Regions from separate parts of the Homo sapiens genome. Here region 1 is linked to region 2. Evidence: fine-mapped expression QTL. A gene starts in region 2. The other region holds a variant in brackets. All regions are shown on one strand. Distances are between the middles of the regions.

Evidence for each region. PIP is the estimated chance that this variant, and not a neighbour inherited with it, causes the effect.
Region 1: its variant is fine-mapped to the expression of SPEF2 in anterior cingulate cortex (GTEx, PIP above 0.99).

What each region holds. Positions count from the first base shown.
Region 1 is chr5:35,706,587-35,709,507 of GRCh38, reverse strand. SPEF2 (sperm flagellar 2) reads right to left here. Exons shown (of 37, transcript NM_024867.4): 19 at 387-560. Among named protein-coding and RNA genes, the nearest start is that of SPEF2, 90 kb to the right of the region's middle. The variant C/T (reference allele first, on the strand shown) is at 1,566.
Region 2 is chr5:35,616,416-35,619,336 of GRCh38, reverse strand. SPEF2 (sperm flagellar 2) reads right to left here and starts at 1,474. Exons shown (of 37, transcript NM_024867.4): 1 at 1,282-1,474. The coding sequence starts at 1,339. RefSeq lists an enhancer at 624-1,431.

The sequences.
Region 1 (2,921 bases), 90 kb before region 2:
TACTCATTCTTATTTTATTAAGATGTTCTTACTCATTACATAAATGTAACTCTATAGTTCAGCACACAGACGTGTATCCTCTTGATCTGCCTGAAGTTACCTGTTACTCTGTGCCTTTTCCTCTTCTCGTCTGTGGTCTTACTCTAATCAGTAGACCTAGGTGTGATGACTCCATGTCTCCTCCTACATGGCAAAGAAGTTGGGCTTTGTAACAACTACGCTTTTAGCTACTCCGAGGGCTTTTCCACTTCCATCTGAGTGTAAAGCCTTGTTTCATATGATTGAAGTTGCCCAAAGTCTGAATGTAGATAGACTATAATTTATAATTCTTTACTGAGTAAAAATAAGAAACTGAAAACAGGATTATAAATCATTCTGTCAATCACCTGATTGAGGTTTTCCTTTTGCAGTAGGAGTTTTTGAAGCCACATGGCTTTGATGAATTTCCTTCTCTTTTTCTGGTTCAGGAGGAGGAGCAGGAGGAGGTGTAGGAAGTGGAAGCTCAGCCAGGGAAGCTGCTGCTTTTTTCTCAGCTTCCTTTTCTTCTAATTTCTTCTCAACTTCAAAAGGATGATAAGAATTGACCTTCATTAGAGACTCTAGAAATCTACTATTTCACTTGAACTAAGAGAAATCTAAATTAATATAAAACAATCTTACGTATTTAAAGCTAATTCATGCTTTAGGGCTTTCCCTTAAATCATCTAGTCCTTAAAGCTAAGATTTCAAGTCTTCTCTCCCTTGTCAGAAATATGGTTGCCCTTGCCTTTTGATGGCAGTGGTGGTAATGTTGATGGGTAGTGGTGGTGATGGTGATGGAGGTAGAGGTGGTGATGGTGCTGGTGGTAGTGGTGGTGGAGGTGCTGGTAGAGGTGATGGTGGTGGAGGTAGAGGTGGTGAAGTCTGTGGTGGGGATGGTGGTAGTGATGGTGGTGGTGTGGTAGTGGTGATGGTAGGAGTGGTGATGGTGGTGGTTGGCATGGGGGTGATGAGGAATATATGTGTATTTGTGTGTACGGAGCAGGTATAAGGGGTTAGCAAGTGGTGTCAAATGTAAAAGTGATAATCTAGAAGTAGCTAATAAAGATGAGGAGAAAAATAAAAGATTGTTTGAAAACGTCCAGTGGGAAAGCAAAGTGAACAAGTGTAAAAAGACGGTAAAGGGCAATGTAATACAAGAGGTGGGGTGAGGAGGAAATGGAAGGGGAAAGAAATGTGTATCACTAACTTTAAAAAGTGAATACAAAGCACTTAGAATACTGCACAGTACATACATCTTCAATTAAGCCTTAGCAATTCATTCATTCCTGCAACAACCATTTATTGAACCTGAATTATGCCTTGAAGAAAAGGAAGGATGACAAGAATAAAGTAAAACTACTACTATTTCTAATGATAATAATTATAATAATATTGCAAACAATAGTTCTGATTGCTGGAGATACAACAGTAAAACAAAACAGAAAAATCAATGGCCTTATGAAGCTTACGTTCTAGTGGTAGGAAACAAACCATAAATATGATGAATAAGTTAATTTATACAAGAGTTAAGATGGTGATAAGTG[C/T]TATGGAAAAAAAATAGAACAGAGTAAGGGAGATCAAAGTGTTGTGGGCAGCTTCTTAAGTTTTAGATAGACTGCCAGGGTGAGTATGCCCAACCATAAGGTGACATCTGAGCAAAGACATGAAGCAAGCCAGGGAGTGAGCCTTGTGTATTTCTGGTGAAAGAGTGTTCCAGTCAGGGGAGATGGTTAGCCCAGATGCCTGGAGGGATGGAGCATGCCTGACTGGAGTCTTTCTAGGCTCCCATCATTGTGATGACCCTTTGCCTTGCATGATGCAGTTTCACCTTTCCTGGCACACCCTCCCTGACTGCCCAGTCTTTCCATCCCTTCACACTGCAGAGGCCCACAGCTCTACTCAATGTACCACTGGCGACGATTGCCTATGTTCTTGCATGACTATTTCTCTTTACATGTGCTTACTCCACCCTTAGATTACTCTTTTCAATTCAGCAAGCTAGGAGGCTTCATTCTATTAGATGTTCTTTTGAAGTGGAAATTAGGGGTTTTAGTTCTGACTTTTAAAGTTATTCATAATTATTGCTTTAAACATCCAAGAATTAAGACAAGTAGAAAAGGGAATTGCCTGTTAAGTCTCTTTAAGTCCTATCTCCTTCCCCATCATCAAGTATATATATGCTGCCAGACTCTTCTGTGCAGATGTATTTAATACATAATTATGTACACTTTCCTTAAAAGAGACTATTTCATATGTAACCTGCTTTTCCCTACTTAACAGTATATTGTGGTCAGAATATAGAAGTACCACATTCTTTTAGTTTTTTAACTTAGTCGGAAAGTTTAATACAGAGCACTGGGCTAGGTTAATGTTTATTGTTTTAATTATTAAACATTTGTTAATTACCTGTTTGAAATATAAATCTTAAGTGATAACTGAGTCTATTAATGTAGTCAGTGAATATTAGAATGCAAACTCTTTAGGAAAATGTTGAAGTTGAGTCTAATAGTTGGCAAAAACAAACTGATTCTAACCCGTAGCTTCAAGCCTTCATGAGTTAGAATTGGTTTGTTTTTGCTTCCCAACCAAGACTCTGTAAGATTGCTATTCTGTCAAATGACATGTTAAGCCTCTTAAAATAGTATATGATTATTTTTTGTTTGAAAGGTTCATGCTGGTAGTTTTTGGAGTAGGCATTTAGATGTAGGAGTTTGTCTTTCTAAGTATGAGCTCCTGGATTTCCATGGTGATTGTGGTTTATGTCTATGGGCAATTTTAATGTTAGTTAACTGTTACATTATGGGAGTTAGGTCACAAATTTAGCGACAGGAGACAGTATGCTATCAAGGCAACTTTAGAATCCTTTTGACACTATTAACTTTGACCATTTTTTATTATAC
Region 2 (2,921 bases):
TCTTTTAGAAGAGTACAACTTAAGGGCATGATATTTTATTTTGGCTCCTATGGTGAGACAGGAATAAGAAACAATAAATGCTAAATATTGTCCTCAGTCCATCATATTTTAGCAAATAAACAGTTGGAGACACAATGGGATAATCGTAGAATACCAGGAAAGAATTTATTGCAGTTCACAGGGAGTGTGTAGATGGTTATTTGACAAAGAAAGAGTCTGAGGTTTATGCCTCAAGAAATGCAACAGGAGATGCTCCGTGCTAAAGATCCTCATGCTGAGAGTATTAATAACTACTTTGCACCCACAGAAACACTACCGATCTAGCAACTTCTGTAGATAAGCTAAGGTTGAACTGGCACCACTGCCTCTCTGGTAGCAAGCTGGTGTTAAGCAAGTTCTTCTGGGAAAATGGACTGAAATGACTTGCCCTGAAAACCTCTTCCCTTAAGCAAAAAAAGAAAAAAAGACAAACAAAACCAACTGAAAAATGAACTCCTGAAGAATTACAGGGCAGTCAAGGAAGCTGCCAGCATGTAAAATTGTCTCTGTGGTTGTCAGACTTGGAAACTTTGGGTGGCAACTGCATGGTTAGGATAAAATTAGGTTGGTGAATAAGGTCAGCTTTGGGCAAGAGCCAATAGTGACCAGAAATAGCTAGTTTGTGATTTGGGGCTTAAAATTTACTAAAATTTGTAAATGTTAACATATTCTACATTAACTTATTTTTCACCCACCCTCCCCTGCTGGTCAGTTAAGTATGGAAAGCATTATTAGGTCCATTTTATAGAGAAGGAAACACATTCAGAGAAGGTATTGTAACTTGTCCAGTGGCTTCATATTTCATCGACTAGCCACCACACCATGCTTCTGCTTCTGGTGATGTGAAGGAGGCATCGTTGGGGTCAGACTACAAAGTCCAGCAAAGTTCCCTCTCCACAGAAGCAAAGGAGACCTTCCTAAACCCTCTGATTGCCTAGAACCACATCACAAAGTCAGAATGCCTGCGGGTTGGGCCCACCGTGACAAGGGTAACTCGAGAGCGGCAGAGTGGGGACGTGACAAGGCCTTGCCCTGGCTGGGGTGAGCTGTAGGGAGGTGGCGGGACGGACCTGGGGCACCGCCGAGCCGAGTTGCTCACTGTGGGATGCTGCCGGCTACGCAGGTGCCCCACCTGTGCAGCTCGCGCCCTGCCCGCCACCTTCCCTGAGTGCGCTGCGCTGCGCTGCAGGCTCTGCGCCCCGCTAGCCCCTCAGACGCTCGCCCCTGGCCGTGGTCACTCACTCACGGTCCGGGACACCTTCAACTCCTTGTTGAGCCACTGGCACAGGATCTCCGACATGGTTCAGCCGGTGCCTCAGACCGCAGGCGGGGGCTTAGAAACTCGCCAGGAACCAAGCCTGCCAGCCCGCGTCCTCCTGTAGCCAAGGGCAACCCTTTGCTATGGAAGCGTATCCAGGCTGGAACTAGGCGAAAGGCCTTAGAGAAGAGGGGACGCTAGGGCTCAGCCGCAGAGGACAGAAAATCGTGTTTCGCCACCTGCTGGCGGGTAAGACCTGAGCGTGCGCCAGCGCAGGAGGAAGCCGTTGGGGGCCTGTGAGAGAAGTTAGGGAGCAGTGGGTGTGGGGAGAGGCGAGGCGGGAACACTTAGGGACACAGCAGGAGCTTCTTAGGTGAGCAGAAAGTAAAACCAGAGTCTCCGCAGGGCTCCGTGGCTCACGCAAATAATCCTACCACTTTGTGGAGGGGGTGGCGCTCGACTGAGCCTGGGAGTTCAAGACCAGCCTGGGCAAGGTAGCAGAAACCGTTTTTTTTTCTGTAAGAAATTAGGCGGCCGTGGTGGCGTGCGCCTGTGGTCCCACCAGCTCAGGATGCTGACGTGGAAGGATCAACCCAGGAGGCGGAGTTTACAGTGAACCGAGATCGAGCCACTGCACTCCAGCCTGGGCAACAAAATGAGACTCTGTCTCAAAAAAGAAGAAGAAAGAAGAAAGAATAACAAGAAGGAGAAGGAGAGGGAGAGGAAGAGGAGGAGGAGAAGAGGAAGAACAGGAGGAAAAGAAGAAAGAGAAGGAGAAGAAGGAGAACAAGGAGAAGGAGGAGAACAAGGAGAGATCAAAGAAGAGGAAGAAGAAGAAAAAAGAAGAGGAAGAAAAAGAAGAAGGGTATTTGGGGTATCCATCACCTTGAGTATTTATCATTTATATACGTTGGTAACATTTCAAATCTTCTCTTCTAGCTATTTTGAAATATACAATGTATCATTGCTAACTATAGTCACCCCAGTTGCTAGCTAACATTAGACCCTATTTCTTCCATCTAACTATAAGTTTGTACCCATTCACCAACCTCTCTTCATTTCCCCTTCCCACCCTCACATCCTTTCCAGTCTCTGGTACTCATAATTTTGTTCTCTATCTCCAGGGGATCAACTTTTTTAGCTACCACATATGAGTAAAACATGCAGTATTTGTCTTTCTGTTGCCTGGCCTATTTCATTGAACATAATGGCCTCCAGTTCATCCATGTTGCTGCAAATGACCTGTTTTCATTCTTTTCCATGGACAAATGGTATTCCGTTATGTATATATACCATTCTTTCTTTTTCCATTTGTTCGCTGATGGACACTTAGATTTATTCCATATCTTGGCTATTTTGAATAGTTCTGTGATAAACATGTGAGTGCAGGTATCCCTTTGATATACTGACTTCTTTTCCTTTGGATAGATACACTGTAGTGGAACTGCTGGATTTTATGGCAGTTCTGTTTTTAGTTTTTTGAGAAACCTCCATACTGCCTTCCATAGTGGTCATACTAATTTACATCCCCACCAACAGTATGAGTTCCCTTTTCTCCACATCTTCTCCAGCATCTGTTGTTTTTTGTCTTTTTAATAATAACCATTCTAACTGGGGTAAGATG